Homo sapiens: one gene and its partners. The protein of the gene in region 1 purifies or fractionates together with the protein of each later gene. This does not show direct contact. Each region holds a gene or a part of one and is shown in the gene's direction. Other genes may lie near its edges.

The links. Proteins that work in one complex are often made in the same cells at the same time.
Region 2: the proteins of TEAD2 (region 1) and CHD1L purify together in Homo sapiens (affinity purification with mass spectrometry; one large-scale study listed by BioGRID and IntAct). This does not show direct contact.
Region 3: the proteins of TEAD2 (region 1) and DCUN1D5 purify together in Homo sapiens (affinity purification with mass spectrometry; one large-scale study listed by BioGRID and IntAct). This does not show direct contact.
Region 4: the proteins of TEAD2 (region 1) and TRPS1 purify together in Homo sapiens (affinity purification with mass spectrometry; one large-scale study listed by BioGRID and IntAct). This does not show direct contact.

What each region holds. Positions count from the first base shown.
Region 1 is NC_000019.10:49,352,019-49,356,814, reverse strand, and holds part of TEAD2 (transcriptional enhancer factor TEF-4), read left to right. Parts: intron 1-844; coding exon 845-856; intron 857-1,395; coding exon 1,396-1,503; coding exon of another isoform or gene 1,504-1,512; intron 1,513-1,608; coding exon 1,609-1,667; intron 1,668-4,796. UniProt on the Homo sapiens protein: Transcription factor which plays a key role in the Hippo signaling pathway, a pathway involved in organ size control and tumor suppression by restricting proliferation and promoting apoptosis.
Region 2 is NC_000001.11:147,279,813-147,284,608, forward strand, and holds part of CHD1L (chromodomain-helicase-DNA-binding protein 1-like), read left to right. Parts: intron 1-213; coding exon 214-379; intron 380-4,538; coding exon 4,539-4,687; intron 4,688-4,796. UniProt on the Homo sapiens protein: ATP-dependent chromatin remodeler that mediates chromatin-remodeling following DNA damage.
Region 3 is NC_000011.10:103,064,236-103,069,031, reverse strand, and holds part of DCUN1D5 (DCN1-like protein 5), read left to right. Parts: intron 1-2,464; coding exon 2,465-2,573; intron 2,574-2,658; coding exon 2,659-2,763; intron 2,764-4,654; coding exon 4,655-4,757; intron 4,758-4,796. UniProt on the Homo sapiens protein: Contributes to the neddylation of all cullins by transferring NEDD8 from N-terminally acetylated NEDD8-conjugating E2s enzyme to different cullin C-terminal domain-RBX complexes which is necessary for the activation of cullin-RING E3 ubiquitin ligases (CRLs).
Region 4 is NC_000008.11:115,662,051-115,666,846, reverse strand, and holds part of TRPS1 (zinc finger transcription factor Trps1), read left to right. Parts: intron 1-4,796. UniProt on the Homo sapiens protein: Transcriptional repressor. Binds specifically to GATA sequences and represses expression of GATA-regulated genes at selected sites and stages in vertebrate development. Regulates chondrocyte proliferation and differentiation.

The sequences.
Region 1 (4,796 bases):
ACCCTGGGCAGGGAGCGATGGCATGGAGGAGGCTGAAGGTTTTGCTCAGGACAGCAGGAAGGATGGGCCGTCGGTCCCCTCCCTTGACCACTGTTCCTGTCCCCCTCCCTTCCCTCTGCTCCTGTCCCTCCTTTCCCTCTTCCTGGCGGTCTCATATCTTCCCCCTCTTGTGCTGTGAAGGCCTCCTCTTCATCTCCGCTGGTTTGTTTTCCCATTTCCTGACCTTTGCATGACCTGCCTACTCTTTGTGCCCAGAAATCTTCATTTCCTGGTGGAGATTCCTCATTCATTTCCTTCTCCTCATCCTTTGGATTTCCTGGTTCCTGTTGGCCGGAGACCCTCATTTTCTCCCCCTTCTGGGTGTGTGGGGGTTTTTCTGTCTCTTTTTCTGGACTTGGGGACGGTCGCTTCTGGTTTTTTTTTTTTTTTTTTTTTTGTATCCAGCAGCTTTCCCTTTCTTTCTCTCTAGGTCTGAAACCCTTCCCTTCCGGTCTGTTCTCGACCTTCTGTGTTCCCTGTCTGTTCTGTCTGGATTAGGAAACATTTACCTTGTCTTCCCGCTGGCTCTGAAATTCTCATTTCCTGTCTCCTGGACATCTGGGAACCTTCTGGGTTTCCTTGTTCTAGAAACCCCCATCACTGTCTTTCTGGGCAGGGAGCCCCTTTTCCCCTCCAGGGCTGGCCACCTCCACTTCCTGTTGCGCATCCATCCCTTGGCACTGCTCAGCTCAGGGTGGCGGGGCTGTGCGGGCGGGTAGGGCAGGGAGGTGGGGGAGTCCGGGCCGTACTTCCTAAGTCATGTTTTCTTTCCTCCTTTGGCACCCTCCCCCACCCCCACGGGCAGGCTCTGAACGTGGTAAGTTCCTCTGCCCATCCTCCCACCCACGCTCACTCCAAACTAGTGCCCTGTCCCTGAGGAGGGGCAGAGGGCTGTGGGGAGAGGTTCAACCCTCCCCCAACCCAAGCCTTTGCCTTTTTTTTTCTTTTTGGAGACAGGGTCTTGCTCTGTCGCCTAAGCTGGATGCAGGGGCACGATCTCCACTCACTGCAACCTCTGCCTCCTGGGTTCCAGTGATTGTTGTGCCCTAGCTTCCCTAGTAGCTGGGATTATGCGTGTGCACCACCACACCTGGCTAGTTTTTGTATTTTTAGTAGAGACAGGGTTTCACCATATTGGCCAGGCTGATACTGAACTCCTGACCTCAAGTGATCTGCCCGCCTCCGGCTCCCAGAGTGCTGGGATTACAGGCGTGAGCCACCATGCCCGGCCACTAACCCTTTGCCTTGACTCCCCACCTCTGCACCTCCCCGTCTTCACCCCACCCTGGCACCATCCCCCTCTTGCCATGTTGACTGAGATGCCCCTCTCACATGAACTTCCGCCTCCTCCTCCAGGACCAGGTTTCCAAGGACAAGGCTTTCCAGACAATGGCAACCATGTCCTCTGCCCAGCTCATCTCCGCGCCTTCTCTGCAGGCCAAACTGGGTCCCACTGGTCCTCAGGTGGTCCAGGTTGGGGATTGTGGGACGTGGGGGCAAAGGGGGATGGATGGGGCTGCAGCTGTCCACAGGGGACTGACCAACCATTTTTCTTTGTGTCCTATCCAGGCCTCTGAGCTTTTCCAGTTTTGGTCTGGAGGATCTGGGCCCCCCTGGAATGTTCCAGAGTGAGTACTATGTGTCCTGGCTCAGCACCTGCCCCCCACCCTCACACTCCCACAGAGACCTTTCTCACTCCACCTTCTAGCTCCTGTGTCCCCCCATTTATGTATGTATGTATGTATGTATGTATGCATGTATGTATGTATTTATTGACATGGAGTCTTGCTCCGTTGCCCAGGCTGGATGGAGTACAGTGGTGCGATCTCGGCTCACTGCAACCTCCGCTTCCTGAGTTCAAGCAGTTCTCCTGCCTCAGCCTCCCGAGTAGCTGGGACTATAGGCGCCTGCCTCTATGCACGGCTAATTTTTGTATTTTTAGTAGAGATGGGTTTTCACCACGTTGGCCAGGCTGGTCTTGAACTCCTGACCTCGTGATCCACCCGCCTCAGCCTCCCCAAATGCTAGGATTACAGGCGTGAGCCACCGTGCCCAGCCTCTATTAGGTGGTTCTTGGACCTGAGGGTAGAACAGAGGTTATAATTAATCTTCTCTTAGGTTCAGAAGGAAGAAAATGTTTCCCAGAGGTAAGTGGGAGTGTCCTTTTCAGTTCTGAGAGAGCCTTGAGGTGACGGGATATGTTTGTAGCCTACAAGAATAGAAATGGGCCCCAGAAGATGATGGGAAGTGCTTTTTTTTTTTTTTCTTTTTTTATACAGGATATTCTTCTGTTGCCTAAGCTGGGGTGCGGTGGCACAATCATGGCTCACTGCAGCCTCAGCCTCCTGGGTTCAAGCAATCTTCTTGCCTCAGCCTCCTGAGTAGCTGAGACTACAGGCATGTGCCACCACACCTGGCTAATTTTTTGATTTTTGTAGAGACGGGGGTCTTGCTATGTTGCCCAGGTTGGTCTTGAACTCCTGGGCTCAAGTGATCCCCCTGCCTGGACCTCCCAAAGTGCTGGGATTACAGGCGTGAGCCACCGTGGCGGGCTAGGGGTGTATTTCTCAGCCCAGAGAGGAACTGATGGATCCAGGCTAGGCATTGGTTGGGTAGTGTGGCTGCAGGACGGTGAGGCAGGAGTGTTGACGGTATTGTCAGAGAAAGAGTGTAGTGAGGGCCGAGTGTGGTGGCTCACGCCTGTAATCCCAGCACTTTGGGAGGCTGAGGCGGGTGGATCACGAGGTCAGGAGATCGAGACCATTCTGGCCAACATGGTGAAACCCCGTCTCTACTAAAAACACCAAAAAAAAAAAAACAAAAAACAATTAGCTGGGCGTGGTGGCAGGCACCTGTAGTCCCAGCTACTCAGGAGGGTGAGGCAGGAGAATCACTTGAACCCAGGAGGCAGAGGTTGCATTGAGCCAAGATTGTGCCACTGTACTCCAGCCTGGGCAATAGAGCGAGACTCCAGCTCAAAAAAAAAAAAAAGAGTGCAGTGACAGGCTGTGTGGGATCTAGACTGGAAGAGAAGGAAGGTCACTGGGGAGCTGCTGCTGAATGGGGATACGGGAAGCATCAGATCAAGTACCTGGGGGCTGAGGGTTTTGCAGGGGGGTTGCTTAGCTGGAAGGTAGGGGGCTGGGCAGGCACTGCCCTGACGCTGGGGTTTCCGCTTTCATGGAGCTGTTAGTCAAATGGGGGAAATGAGCGTTCATCAAATCATCACCTGCATAAACAGAAAATCGAAGAATGTGTGAGGTGCTGTGAAGAACCACAGCAGGTTCTGGGGTGGAGGAGAAAGTTCTAGGGGTTTCTCTGAGAAGATAACATTGAAGGCCGGGTAGGACTTAGCCAGGTGAAGAATGGGAGTGGGAGGCCCGGCATGGTGGCCCGCATCTGTAATCCCAGCACTTTGGGAGGCCAAGGAGGGCAGATCACTTGAGGTCAGGAGTTCGAGACCAGCCTGTCCAGCATAGTAAAACCCCATCTCTACCTAAAATGCAAAAAATAGCCAGGCATGGTGATGTGCGCCTGTAATCCCAGCTACTCCGGAGCCTGAGGCAGGAGAATCGCTTGAACCTGGGAAGCAGAGGTTGCAGGGAGCTGAGATTGTGCCACTGCACTCCAGCCTGGGCAACAGAGCGAGACTCTATCTCAAAGGAAAAAAAAAAAGAATGGGAGTGGGAATATATTAGGCAGACACAATAGCACACGACAAAGTCCTCAGGTAGGAGATCTTTCTGGGTTCCAGGAATCTAGAGGAGGCCAGTCCAGTATTTGTTGAGTGCCTACTAAGTGCCTGATACTGTGCTTGGTTTGGGGGCACAGCAGTAAGACAGGTGAAATTCCTGCCTTCACGGAGCTTCATATATTTGGTGGGCGGGGGAGGAGACAGACAATAAACATATAAACAAAGAATTAATAAGAAAAGGAGGCCAGGCATAGTGGCTCATGCCTGTAATCCCAGCACTTTGGGAGACCGAGGTGGGTGGATCATTTGAGGTCAGGAGTTCGAGACCAGCCTGACCAACACAGTGAAACCCCGTCTCTACTAAAAAAATACAAAATTAGCTGGGTGTGGTGGCACAGCCTGTAATAATCCTAGCTACTTGGAAGGCTGAGGCAGGAGAATCGCTTGAATGCAGGAGGCGGAGGTTGCGGTGAGCCAAGATCACGCCATTGCAGTCCGGCCTGGGCAACAAGAGCAAAACTCTGTCTCAAAAAAAAATAGAGCTGGGGTCTTGCTGTGTTGCCCAGGCTGGTCTCAAACTCCTGGGCTCAAGCGATCTTCCTGCCTTGGCCTCCCAAAGTGGTGGGAATACAGGCGTGAGCGACTGCGCCTGGTCTGACCTCTGACATCTAAGTCTCTTCACCACTATCTCTTGGGCTACTAGGGCTGTGACTGATACTGTAGCCACTAGCCTCATGCAGCTATTTAAATTAAAATTAAATAAAATTAAAGATTCTGTTTCTCAGGTCCATGAGCCACACTTGTGCTCAGTGGCCACGTGGTCTGTGGTCAGTAGCCACATGTGGGCACTGGGTACCGTATTGGATGGCACAGATTTCCATCCAATAGAACATTTCCATCCCTGGAAAGTTCTATTGGCCAGTGCTGCCTCCCCACCCCGACTTTGGCCTCCTGTCCCATCTCCTGAGTGTTGGTCATTTTCTTCCCACCCTCCCAACCCCTCAGCCTCTTCTTCCTCCAAATTCCTTGTCTTCTGCGTCTTCTCCCTGCCTTCCAAGACTTG
Region 2 (4,796 bases), on another chromosome or scaffold:
CCTCTGATAATCATTTATCACCTCTCTGCTTACCCATCATCCAACTATTAAATGGCCCTGGCTGTTACTATCTATGATGGGGAGAGCAGAAAGGCTGCCTGTTCATTAGAGAAGGACTGTGCCTGGTGTCGTTAATCCACTTAGCCAATCACTGATATCCTAATGTTTCTTTTCATGAGAATTTGCTGGACTTTTTTGTTTCCTCTATTCAAGTTGAGTGAGATACTCAAATTTGGTTTGGATAAACTGCTGGCCTCTGAGGGGAGCACCATGGATGAAATAGACCTGGAGTCCATCCTGGGAGAAACAAAAGATGGCCAGTGGGTCTCTGATGCCTTGCCTGCAGCAGAAGGAGGGAGCAGAGATCAAGAGGAAGGAAGTAAGTTGGAGGTTAGAGCAGAGCAAATGGCACAACCACCCCAAGCTAGAGCTCACGTCCCCATGGAAAGTTTTGGATGCTGCTCTCTGGGGCATCTTTTTTCTCCCTTACCCTATTGTCATTTGGGCACACTGTTTAAGACTTGCTTGATAAAAGAACGTTACCCAAACTAACTGGAAATTTGTGTGGCTCTTCCCTTGTAGCTGAACTGTGAACCAAAATCATAGTATTAATGTTTATGATAGTATCAATCTTAAGGCTTTGAATTTGTACCTTTTCTCCCTTGGTTGCAAACATCTTCTTCTTTATTAGTAAAGCCTACCATCCTTGGTATGATGCTTTGCACATAGCGATTCCTCTTCTAAACAGTAGAATTACTTGTTTTTAAAATTGCAGCTAACATTAAGCATTTATTTTGCGTTCATCAACAGTGCGGACTTTGTCATGTGCTTTTTCCATTTAATTTCTGTAATCCATGAGATGTAGGAGATGGTTTTGTCTTTCTCTTAATTTTCTTTCCTGAATTTGGTCAGCATTTGTCATTTTGTTCTTTTCTATTCTGAGCACTTAAATTTCCGATTTGAAGTAATTTTTCACATGGTAGCTTTGTAAAGGTATTCCCTGGCATCTTGTAGTTATTTTGAAATGACTTATTTTTCTGTACCAGCTGCAGCAGAGATTCAATATGGACTGGGGTGAGAGGTTTGGGAGTCTTACTAGGCTTCTTAATTCACCAGTACTTTCTTTTAATTATACACAATAGTGCTGTTTCTTCACTAGATGGTAGCTCCTTTTTATTTTGGGTAGTGGTAGTGGCATGATTTCTGGTTTTGTAGTTCTCTTTTGTTTCTATAGGACCGTGAATTTCCATCGCTCGCTTTCTCTCTGTGCCACAAACTTGTCAAAGGATGTCTTCCCACTTCTAAGTTGTCTCTCTCCCTGCCAGAAGCAATGCCTTCCCTAATTCCTGGCTGCATGTATTTTCATACCTTCCCTTCTGTTCAGTTCCTTAGTAGCCACTGCTCTGATCCACTCAGACCTATCCTCATTATTTTCCCACTTGGAATGGGACTGTCTTTTGTGGGTAACTTTTATCTGTCTGACCTTTCTGGAACCCTCCTGCCCTCTCCACTGCATAGTCTCTGCCTGACTGTCTACTCTAGTGTGGGCTTTGGAGCTGGTTTTGGGGGTTCATTTCTCTTAACTTCCATAAGTTGAAGTGTGTAATATTTTCTGACTCCTAATGTAGTAGGCATGGATTGGGGTGGTTTTGTTGTCCTTGTTGATCTGTATAGTTTTTGTGGGATAGGTGGAAAAGTTGGAATTTGGGCAGCTGGCATTGTTTTACAGGAAACTGCTTTTTGATTTTATGTTTTATCTTCGAAATTCTTTATAAAAATATCTTGTTTGTATTCTTCAAGAACTCTTTCTTGTTCTCTGCTTATTGTTTTAATTGTAACTCTGTTCTCATTTCAAGGACATACTGTCTTCTCTGGGGACATTTATTATGGCTTCTTAATATGTATTCCAGGGAGAATATTACATCTTTTTAAAAAGTATTTCTCTTCCCATTGCATTGACTTTTACTTCTACTTCTTTAAAAAAATATATATATATTTATTTATTTATTGAAATTGGCAGATAAAATTGTATTTATCATGTACAACATGATTTCTTGAAGCACATGTACATTGTGGAATCATTAAATCTAGCTAATGAACATACATCACTTCATATGGTTATATATTTGTGGTGAGAACACTTAACGTCCACTCTCCTAGTATTTCTCAGGAATACAATATGTCATCATTAGCTATAGTCACCATGGTACCTCTTTTTCTAAAAAGGAAAATTCGTTTGGGGATCTCTTGTTCTCATCGATAGTTTCCCCAACCGTCTGGTATTCCCTGGCTGTCTGATCACATGTGCTGATGAAGTGCCACAAAGCTGAGGGCAGCTCTGGCATGGGCCCTGGGGACTTATTCCTGGTTGGTGAGTCAGCTTTTACATGGAGGGCACCTTCTCTGATCCATATTTGATGTCTTTTCACTGGGCAACCCATTTTCTCCAGAGACCAATCTTCTAGTATTTTCCCTGGGAGAGGTGAGAATGGAGTTCACCTGGTTGCTGAAACTGAAAAGGCGGGGTGAGTCAAGGGCTCATGGCACTCCTGCTCTTTGGGGTGCAGATCTTCTCTCAATTCCCCGCTTTGCAGTACTCTGTACTTGTAAGTCCTAAGCTCTTGGGGGATTGAGAGGGTCTCTAGACTCCTAATGAGCCCTTGGCTAGGCACCTGTGTTTTGTTTCCATGTCTCTTCTTAATCTGTCATTATCCCTCCAGCAACTTTGCATTTTCCAAAAGGTTCTTGAACTTTTTCATCCACCATTGCCTCATAGATCTTTTTTAAAATTCCTTTAACTGTCACTTTGTGGTTTCAAGTGAGAGAAGAAATAGATGCATGTGATCATATTTTTAAGTTATAATTGATTATATTAAGTAGCAACACACTCAGTTCTGTACTGATCTAGATAATTTCAGCTTATTTTCCTAACGTTTACTAGAACAAAATAAAGTCACACTCTTTTCCAGAAAGATAATTATATTTCTCAGTCAATCCAACTGCCTAAAATAATTTTACTTTATTTAGACAGTCCAACTGCCAGAAAAAATCCCCAGTTGTATTACACTTTGGAATTTTCTCTTCGATGAATGGATATAGGTCCGCTCTGTGGTAAATGATTCTCCTGGTAGGATAGAGACGCGGGTCTAGGCTTGTGATGGCAGAGTGAAGATAGGAAGTATGATTACAAAGAATATAAGTGGATAGGAAAGACTAGTAACTAACGTGGCCCCAATCAGAATTAAATAAAAAACAGGGTTGCTTTATCTTAAATGCCAACATTTTTTTAAAAAGCATGGTTGGAAGTTGAGAATTGCATGCAGTATGAAGCTACATATGTTGATCATATTTGACACTTCTCAGCTCTATTTTTTTCTACTTGTTGATAGAGTGCCTCATTGAAAGCCCCCTGCTGATTTAATTAGCAAATGCCAATTAGAATTACAGCTGGTTAGATTTGGGTACAAGTGTGAAGCAATTGATCTCTTGAGAATGAAAATGTTTTGCTTTCATACTCTCTAGGGAAAACATACTTATAATGGATTTCACAAATATTGTGAAAATATATTATTTGGTAACATGTGCTACTAAATATGCTTCCCGATTCAATCATTATCTTACCTATCTGTGGTTGCTAGTCTTGGCTGGTCCTGACTTTTCTTAATCACTTGATTCATGATCTTGGCAGATCACTCAACCTCATTGAGCCTTTTTGTTCTCATCTGTAAAATGGTCCTATTAATGCCTACTTTACTCTTTTACACAGTTGGAAAAATCAGACACGATTATAGTTGTGAAAGTGATCTGACAGCATGAAGTGCTATTCAAGATGACACTATTGTCTTCATTGTTATTATTACCACAGTTATTATTTGCTAGCCTGTTAATCTCTCCACCCTTCTAGAGACCCAATTATATACTGAAAAGAGCACACTGGCCTTAGAATCAGAAAATCCTGCCTCTTCCAGTGAGAATTACAGAGTCCCTTAATTTCTGCCTAAGCCTCAGTTTTCCCTTTCAAAAGTAGGATTAGTTATACCAGGATTGTGGTGAGGATCATGACGAAGACGCTTGATGAGATCTGTAAAGAATATTGTAAATCCAAGGGATTATTTTTGTGATTCTTCATTTTCTCATAGATTTGCCAAGCTGAATATTAAAAGTGTGTTTGGAATAAAAAAGTACGGATTTTATTAGATGATCTTAATGTCAGTGAGATTTGCGCTGAGGGATAGTTGGGAATAAATGAATGAGGAATGAATGGAAGAATCCAGCAGAGATTCACAAACCATCTAGGGATGAACCAAAGGGTTTTAAGCCATGCTCTCCCCTTGGAAAAGTAAACACATGGGATCCCCATGTAGAACCCACATTCTTCAGTGTCAGTGGGATGGGAAATGAAATACCTTCCTTCATATGGACTTAGCCCATTTAGAATATAGGCTGTTCTCCTGTCCACTTTTGTTATTGATTTGAATAGCATTAATCTATTTTTCCTTGGTATCTAACATTTCTCTCTTTGTGTTTTATGTTGTTAGAAAATCATATGTACTTATTTGAAGGTAAAGATTATTCTAAAGAGCCCAGTAAGGAAGACAGAAAATCATTTGAACAACTGGTAAACCTTCAGAAAACCCTTTTGGAGAAAGCTAGTCAAGAGGGCCGATCACTCCGAAATAAAGGCAGTGTAAGAACTGTTAATTTATTTAAAAGTTGTTCTTCCAAACTCTCATTCTAAAACAAACAAAAAAATGATGCTGGCATCGTTTTGTTCTCTTAGGATGATTTGTCAAGAA
Region 3 (4,796 bases), on another chromosome or scaffold:
ACTCTTTGAAAGCATTCGTCTATACTTATTTTCTCCAGTTCCACTCTTTTCATTCTCTCTTAAACCTGTGCCAGTAAAATTTCTATCCCTGTCACTCCTTCAAAACAGTTCTTGTCAAGGTGTCATATACAAGTAAATACTGAAAGCAAAAATATGCATGTATTTTTGAACTGTAAGATCTTTTTTTTTTTTTAATTTTTAGGTTTGGGGGTACATGTGAAGCTTTGTTACATAGGTAAAGTAGTGTCAGAGGGGTTGATTGTGCAGATTATTTCATTACCCAGGTATTAAGCCTAGTACTCAACAGTTATCTTTTATGCCCCTCTCTCTTCTCCCACCCTCCACCTTCAAGTAGACCCCAGTGTCTGTTGTTTCCTTCTTTGTGTTCATAAGTTCACATCATTTAGCTCCCACGTATAAGTGAGTACATGTGATATTTGGTTTTCCAGCATTAGCTTGCTAAGGATAATGACCTCTAGCACCATCCATGTTCCCGCAAAATGTATGATCGTGTTCTTTTTTTATGGCTGCTTAGTATTCCATAGTGTACATATACCATGGTGTATATGTATTTTCTTTGTCCAGTCCATCACTGGTGGGCATTTAGGTTGATTCCATGTCTTTGCTATTGTGAATAGTGCTGCAATGAACATTCACCTGCATATCTTTATGGTAGGATGATTTATATTCCTCTGGGTATATATCCAATAATGGGATTGCTGGATCGAATGATAGTTCTACAAACAATACTTATCAAAACTTGTGGTTGCAGCTAAAGTTGTATTAAGAGGGAAATTATAGCCTTAAATACTATATTAAATTAATTAAATTCTGGTAAGATTGGTCAAGAAAAACAACAAAAAAGGGATGAAGATAATGCTAATGCAAATTAGAAAATGTTATAAATTTTAATCATATTTAAATAAACTTATATGTAAAATAATCAGTTATGAGAAAAGTATGGGACCAAAACATTCAAAAAGAAATAGAAAATCTGAATGGCCCTATGGCCATTAAAAATGTTGGTTTATTAGTTAAAAGTTTTCCTTCCCTCAATACTCACCTGAGTTTGGACAGATGCTAATTCCAGGGTTACATAAGCTTTTTCAAAAAACGGGGGGGAAAAGTAGCAATTCTCTTTTCATTTTCTGAGTCTTATGTACTACAATCTTGTTAAAAAAACTAGCAAGGAGAGTAAGAATGAAACTTAAAAGCTAGTCTCACTTAGGAACCTAGCAAAACAACCCCAAAATCCAGCAATGTATAAAACAGATAACATGACCAAATTTGACTTATTCTAGAAATGCAAGGTTTAATTAATATTAGAAAATTGTCCAAAATATTTACACATTAATGAAATTATGTTACTACACATTATAGGCCTTTGCATTATTGATTTAGTATAGTCTTAGTTAAATCTGAGAATGCCAGGTGGCTGGAGAGCATGTTGAATAACTAAAATTCAGTTTTGAGTGGAATACTGTGGACCACAGTAGATGGCACAATTAATTTGATTAAAGGGAGTCAGATGGTCTCTCAGAGGTGGCAAAATGTGAGTTAGGTCTTGATGAATAATATTTTTATCAGCATGTTTGAGATTTCAAGTGGAAATAATGGGTGCTGAAGTATGGCAGTGGCATTTGGGAATGGTAAGTGATATAATTAGAGCATGGTAAGGTTATCAGGAAGTGGCAGGAGATGAAACTAGAGATTTGTGCCAAATTGTGAAAGGCCTTGACTGCCTTGCTTCTTGCTAAACAGTGGAATTTATCAACCCACTGAGACAAAGTCAGTTAAGATTTTTGAGCCTTCCATATATTTAGCTGCTTATATTTAATGTCTTGTCTTTAAAAATAACACGTATGACTTGTTGTTTGCATGCTTTTGCATATATAACTTATTTGAAGTTAGGTGCTTCTACTGATTGACTTTGACTTTTTGTTCACAAAAATATAGGGATCTTGATTTATGACTGGACCACTTAATGTATTAATTTGCACTGTGTTATATCCTAAACTTTTAAAACTACTCATGACTAATGTCTTTCACCAAACTGTTACCTACGAACTTTCTAAAGAAATGTGTGACAAAGGCGTGATTAGTTTCATTTGCTCTGCCATTTTTAGCTGTATATGTGATAAAACATGTTTTAATACATCTCTTTTTAACTTCGATTTTATTTGGAATTTTTGAATGAGCTGTTTGTTTGTTTTTAAGCAAAGTAATTGGAGTGAACTTTCTTTGATTCCCAGGTTTTCTTTTTTCCCCTTTTTTCTTTTTTTATTGCATTGGTAGATGCAGGGCAAGAAATTTATTACTCTAAATTTGTGACTCAGAATTTTAAAACTAAATTAACTTCATAAATGCGCTCACTTTTTTCTTAATGCATTACGTCTAACCCCCAGTGATACTTTTATTTGATTTTCTTGATTATGTAATTTGTTTGATATTTCTTTTATTTAAGGTGTGACTGCACAGAAAAGTTACAAAACAAATTTGACTTTTTGCGCTCACAGTTGAATGATATTTCGTCATTTAAGAATATCTACAGATATGCCTTTGATTTTGCAAGGGTAGGTGCAATTTTCTTGTTTTGTTGTTTTAATAGCTTTTCATCTTGAGACCACACTTAGGAAAACTTTTTCACTTATATTTTAGGATAAAGATCAGAGAAGCCTTGATATTGATACTGCTAAATCTATGTTAGCTCTTCTGCTTGGGAGGACATGGCCACTGTTTTCAGTATTTTACCAGTACCTGGAGGTACGTATGTTTTTTCGAATTTTGAAAATATTATTTTAAAACTTAATCTGAAAGTTATACTTTTGAGGAACAAGTAGATTTTTAATAGTATGCTTTAAAAAAACTTTAGAGAAAAAATTCTAAAATATGTACATATCAGTTGCTATTTTTAGATAGAAGTTCATGTTTATTAATATATTTTGTACCTAAGATATTTTCAATCCTACCCCCCCAGTCCCCCAAATAAAAGAAACCTCCAAGAAATACATTGTATCACAGACATTTGTCTTGCAGAATTAGTTTCTCGGGGTTTTCATAAGAGAGTTAATGCTAGTACACAAACCTTTAAGCTTCTAAATCTGATTTTCTTCTTTTGTTACACAGGGTCTTAAGCTGAAATGTACATAAGAGAACCAATTTAGTAATAAAACTTTCCTTTTCTACTTAGGCTCAATCTAAAGAAACAGAATAAAGCTATTAATATTTTATGGCCACAAATATGAGAATGGCTATAATAGTATACTTAAATATGCTGGTTACTAAAAAAATGTAAGCTGAAATGATGACGTGTTCTTTTAGAAGGTTTATCATAGCAACTACTATAGGCAGTGATTCTAAGAAGATGCTATTCTTTTTTTCCATTGCTTTGTCTAGTTTTTTTTTTTTAAATCTGTTTTTGTGCCTTTGTAATTCTAGGGTTATTGGTATAGTTCTCACCATATCTTGAATACAGATGCTTTTTCCTTTGGAAATAATTTCTCATAAAGCACATTGCTTATAGCTGCTTCCCTTTTCCCAGAGTAGTAAAAGTTGTGATACAAGACAGTGATATCAGCTGGGCGTGGTGGCACACGCCTGTAATCCCAGCACGTTGGGAGGCCAAGGCAGGCAGATCACTTGAGGCCAGGAGTTCGAGACCAGCCTGGCCAACATGGTGAATCCCCGTCTCTACTAAAAATACACACAAAAAATTAGCTGGGTGTGGTGGTTTGTGCCTGTAGTCCCAGCTACTCGGGAGGCTGAGGCACGAGAATTGCTTGAACCAGGGAGGTGGAGGTTGCAGTAAGCTGAGATTGCACCACTACACTCCAGCCTGGGTGACAGAACGAGACTCTGTCTCAGAAAAAAAAAAAAAGAGACAATGATATGAAAAGGTCTTACATGAATGAGTTTTACGCATGATTCAATCTGTAAGTCCTATAAATTATTTTTGATGGATGGTATCTATTTTCTTCCTATTAGTAGTTTTGGGCAAAAATAAATTTAACTGAATGTAAAAATATTCAGCTCTATGGGGAGCTGAGAAGAACTAAATATTTTCAGACACTTGTTATGTGCAGGTTGTTTGGCATATATTTTTAAAAATCTTTATAATACCATTTTGAATTAAATTCTATCCCCATTTAACAAATGAGGAGGTGGTTTCTATTCTTAAGTAACTTTCCCAAAATCACTCAATTAAGTGGCAAGGGTGGGATTTAAATCGAAGCCTATACTCTTTCACTTGTTTCCAAAGATGCCAAACTCAAAATGTGGCTAAACAGTAAATCTTGAGCAAAGAAATGATTTACTAGGAAGCAGCACAATAGAACATACTGGATGTAGGAAATGTTATATATCTTGATCTCATTGGTGGTAACACAAGTATATACATATGAAAAAGTTAGTTTTATCCTTACTGTTAGTACTCAGTGCTCTTATTATTCCTCAAAAATGAAAAAAAAAGTAAAAAATAGATTATGTTAATATGTAAATGCCCATGAGGAATCTCTTAGAAACACAAATAATTAAAAAAATAGTAAATGTTTTAGAAAAAACCAAATCACAAAAACAGTTAAAACTTAGTTTACTAAATTGAGTAAATGATGTTTGTTTAAATATTTAAATACAAATATTTAAATCATTTTTGCAGCAATCAAAGTATCGTGTTATGAACAAAGATCAATGGTACAATGTATTAGAATTCAGCAGAACAGTCCATGCTGATCTTAGTAACTATGATGAAGATGGTGCTTGTAAGTATAACATAACATGTTCCTTTGAAAACAAAATTT
Region 4 (4,796 bases), on another chromosome or scaffold:
GTACAAAAGAAAAATACAGATAGGGCCTGAGACAAAATTACAAAGAAATGATAACTCTGGGCCTGGTTGTTGGCTAAAACTTGATTGTTCAAAGCAAAAATAAAATAGGAACCTTCCAACAATTCTTCAAAGTCCTCCAGCTCTGAAGCTAAAACCTATGGATCTTGCTGGCATCATGTTACTTTCCTGCTGGTTTTAGAAAAAGTTGATCATTTAGAAAAGGCTGCCAGAGTTAAAAATGCAAGGGACAGCAGAGGAAAGTCATGCGGGCAGCCAGTTCTTGACGTGGACAAAATGAGAATGAAAGTTTCTGAACTCACTGTTGTGAAGTTTTACATGCCGCTCATTTGCTTAGAAGGCTCTCTCAGATATTCCACCAGTTAACGTATAAAAGCAAACAGGATCTAAAATCGTGTGGGCTTTTTTTTTTTTCTTTCCCCAAGTATGCCAGGGTTGTGAATAAATACAGGGTTTGTATGGGAAGATGAAGCGTTTCCTGTAAGTTCTGATGCTGACAGGACAGTCTGGAAATGATACCAACATTTTGAGGATTTTTTTTTTTTACCTTTAAGTGAAAGTTTATTAATGATATGCTTAATCTTAACAAGTCAAACATATTCTTAGAGTTTCTCTCTCCTTGGATTTCATAACTTCCTTTTAAAGCTACACCTTTGGATAAAAACATCTCTAGATTCAGTTCAATATACAGGGCTAGTAACATGCTAAAGTTTGACGATTATTTCTGGATGTTAATAATGTGAAAATAAAACTCCTGAGGGGCAAATAGAGCCTTAATACCAACATTATAACTTGATTTCTCTGAATGTGAGGCCTTCTGAAGCTTCATTAGTACTCTGTTGGCGAAGTATTATTTACCACTGGCGAGCTGATGTTTATGGCTTCCTGATATGTATGTTATATGTTAGGATATATATGTGTAGACTGCTTTTCCATACATAATACCTAAGTCTAACACTTTTCAAATAAGTGGTGGAAAGTAGCAAGTTACTAACACAAAGTTTGTCACTCCTTTGAATTCTAGATGCTGTAAGGGTCTGTGCTACTATTTAGGTTTTGTCCTTTGTCTCTTAAAGGTAACGTTAAAGGTAAGGAGAAAAATGTCATAATAGCTGTGAAGTCTGAGCTGAATTTAGAACTTAGCATTTCGATGACTAATATTTTAAATGATTTTATAAAATTTTCTGCATACGTGTTTGAAAACCAGTTTAGGATCGGAATCAGTGTGCTAATCCGAAATAAGTTACACATACTACTACCATATTTTCAGTATTATTTAAGTCACCTACCACTCCTGAGTTTATTCTGATTTACATCATATAGATCTCTTCCTATAAGGAAATATTCATTCATAAGGAAGACCTTTAAAACAGGGAAATGCATGCATCTGTAGAAAAGCAGCTTTTACGATTCTAGTATTTCAGTGACGGTTCTATTATCACTACTATTATTAGATGTATATGTGTATGTGTGTACAGACATACAACCCACAATATGTGATTAATGATGTGTACATTTTTATTAAGAAAGCAACCAAAGACTGTAGATTTTTATAAACGCTTGTCTTACCTTCTTTGTTGTAAATAAACATTACTGAAAGTTTCCAGAGGACTTGCAGCAAATTGTTTTTGAACTAGAACTTTATTCCAAATTTGAAATTGGAATAAATGCTGATAACTGACCTTTAAACATTTTTCATAACATGAATATTTTAGAATAATTATATTTTAACTTCAGTTCTTCTTTTGATAGCAACAATAATGTAACAACACTATGCTATTACGTGTACAACAACACAGACTTTAAGAAAGTTATGGGCAGGTGTCTATAATTGATTTAAAGGAAAGATTATTTTTGTAATAAGTGATGAACTTAAAATGACTGGCTTACATTAAAACATATTCTTATTAAGATTTCTCTGGTGTGTAAAATGAAGCCATTCATTCAACAGGCTGACAACTTTCCACTTGGTATTTGCCTTTCCTTAATTTAGTTTCCGCAGGACAGCTAGTGTGGTAGTCTGCATCTGTTTTTAGCAGGCATAGAAAACTATAAACTCAGACAGTTCTGTCCCAAATATTGCAGCTCACAAGTTACAATCAATTTGATAAAAACCCGCAAGTTTTATGGGCTCGTATTTTGTTGTTCATCCTTGCTAGGTCAAGCTTTCAGGTAATAGGTTTCTTTTTCTCCCTCTTTTGCTGATGATAACTGCTAATACCATTGATAACTAATTCTGAGTCTTGTTTACTCATTTATCATCCTTATTTACCATTTGTTGAAGTTTTGGGAAATTAATGACAGCATACGTAGACTTGCGTTTACTTTGATGGCTTATCTGTGAAAATGACATTTATCTTTTGTTATTATACAGAAATAAGTAAATTCTTTGTTACCATAATAGTTATGATTTATGGAATTTTTGAGTCCCCCTTAGATATAGCATAAAGATGGTCTTCTAGCCTTTGCCAAGTAGACATTTAATCTAATTGTTTAAGAGTGCTTGTCATGTATAGAAAAGACTAACATACTTTGCAATTATTTACATTAAAAATTATGTAGAGGTTTGTTTTAGTGTAATTTTAAAAATAATTTGTCTCCCAAAAGCTGTAACCAGTGGATTAAAGTAAATAAGCTAAAATACCAAATCTTGTTTTATACCATTGTTCTATAGCAAACAGTGCTGCAGAGGATGTAACTACTTTTTAAAATTTATCCTCCGATGTAAGTAGGGCCAAAGTCATTTGTTTGTATAAAATATTCTATTAATTATATATGACCTTTATAAATAATATCTTCGATTTTATTATTATGATCACTTTTTGAGCTATCACAGTGCTCAGTTGTTCTCCTATTCCTGAGAACTGAATTTGGCCTTTAGTTTGGTTTTCTGATGGACACAATAATGTAGAACTTGACTTTGGTTAGAAAGAGATCTTTGAGCTTCAGGAATCTCTGAAGGTGCAGTAGGATCTACAGGTGAAAACCATTTGAATTGTTAAGCATTAGTTAGGTGAAGAAACTCTACTGGTCCCTGCAGCATATAGCAGCTATTATCGTAGCGGTCTACTTTTTGCTATCCCAGTTTTTTTTTTTTTTTTTTTTTTCCTTTTCCAAGAGCACAAATCCAAATAGCAAAAATGAAGGTGAAATTATCTATGTACTTCAAATTTGGAGCATCATTTGAAATCATTTTCTGATTCTAAGCTATAACTGAAATACAAATATAACATTAAGACACCCCAAAGAAGACATTAAGGATACACTTGTCGTTCTTAAGTGTGTTTCACTAAAAATAATAACAAAAAACTTTTAATTTTTAAAATGTTTCTAGCTTTTAAAAACCTGCAGTAAATACTTTACAAGTGGCTAGACACCTTCCCTGGTGGTTTAGTTTATACAAGCAGGAAACTTTCTCTCCTACTCTTTCTCTCTCTCTTTCTTGTTTTCTTTAAACCAACTGACGTAATGCCAAACTTTGCTTTAAAAGAACAGACAGAAGTAATTGGTAGCTTTTAACTTTTAATAATGTTCTGGATTGGTTTTAGTGGCCAAAATGCCATTTAAAAAAAAAAAAAAGTTCAAGTAAGAACGGGCTTGTGGCCTGAGGAAGAAAGGCTCTGTTGATGCAGTTATTTTTATTCTTGTTTTTCAATCTGTTATTAAAAATCTTTCCTGCTGAGCACTGCTGGATTTCTCCAATTGCTCTTTGTGATGGCTGGTGCATTTCAGGTTACCGTAACTTAAACAGTTTTTGGGTTTTGGGGAAAGTGGGTATTTGCGTTGCATTATTTCTTTCTTATTTGGAAAAAAAATCCATTTGTTTTTGTTTCAATGGAGATTAATTAATTAAGGTTATCAATGGCCACAGGTCAAAGAATATGTTTATATAACGAATGCGACACCTGTTAGCAAGAGCCTAAAATGTGGAAGTTTAAATGTGACATTAATCATTTTTATGTGCAGAGGAAGGAAAATAGATGAAACTTTACGAAAATGCATTTTTAGATTGAAAACATTAATTTTAAGGGTCAGTGCGTTTCTACAGGCAGCTCTTTTTTTCTTACAATTTTAGATGATAATTTTTTAACCCTATTTATCAAACAGTATTTATAGTTTCCTTTTTTTTTTTTTTTTATAAATAGTCATTTCTTTCTCTCTGACTTTGCACAGGCAAACAGAACTTTCTCCAGTTAAGAGACATCTTGGTGATGTTGATTGACATCAGGGCAACTTCAGAAGCTGGCAAGTAGGAAAATCTTTTTAGGGGGCAAAAAGATTTGTGCTAGTGTTCTCTTCCTTGGGAAAAGACACTCCACCCAGAAATTATTGGGTTTAGTGGAAGGCCCTCCGCCCCATTCGGTGGCTCAGAACTAAGTACTGTTTCGACTTTTCTTTTGTGAATTGTTCCTGAGGTTTAAATCTTACGGTTACTTGTCGTGGACTTTGCTTTTAACCCAAATTCTTCCTGATAGATTTTTTTTTTCCTTCTTTACCTAGAGCACATTTAAGGAATAATATATATAGTGAAAATTAAGTGTCACACAAGGAAGAGTACAGTCTTTAAGGCATTTATGACTATAAAAAGCATTCCGCAAATTTGGGGCATTGAAGTGTTCTCTGCTTATAAATTTGACAGTTTTGATTTACTTGATATGTTTCTCAGTTTTTCTTGCGAGAGTTACAGACTCTAGTTCAAATCGTAGGCATTCCTTTTTTGCTTATGGCTTCTTTAGTTAAAGATTTGTTTGGAAAAACTTTAGGAACTTAATGTATAT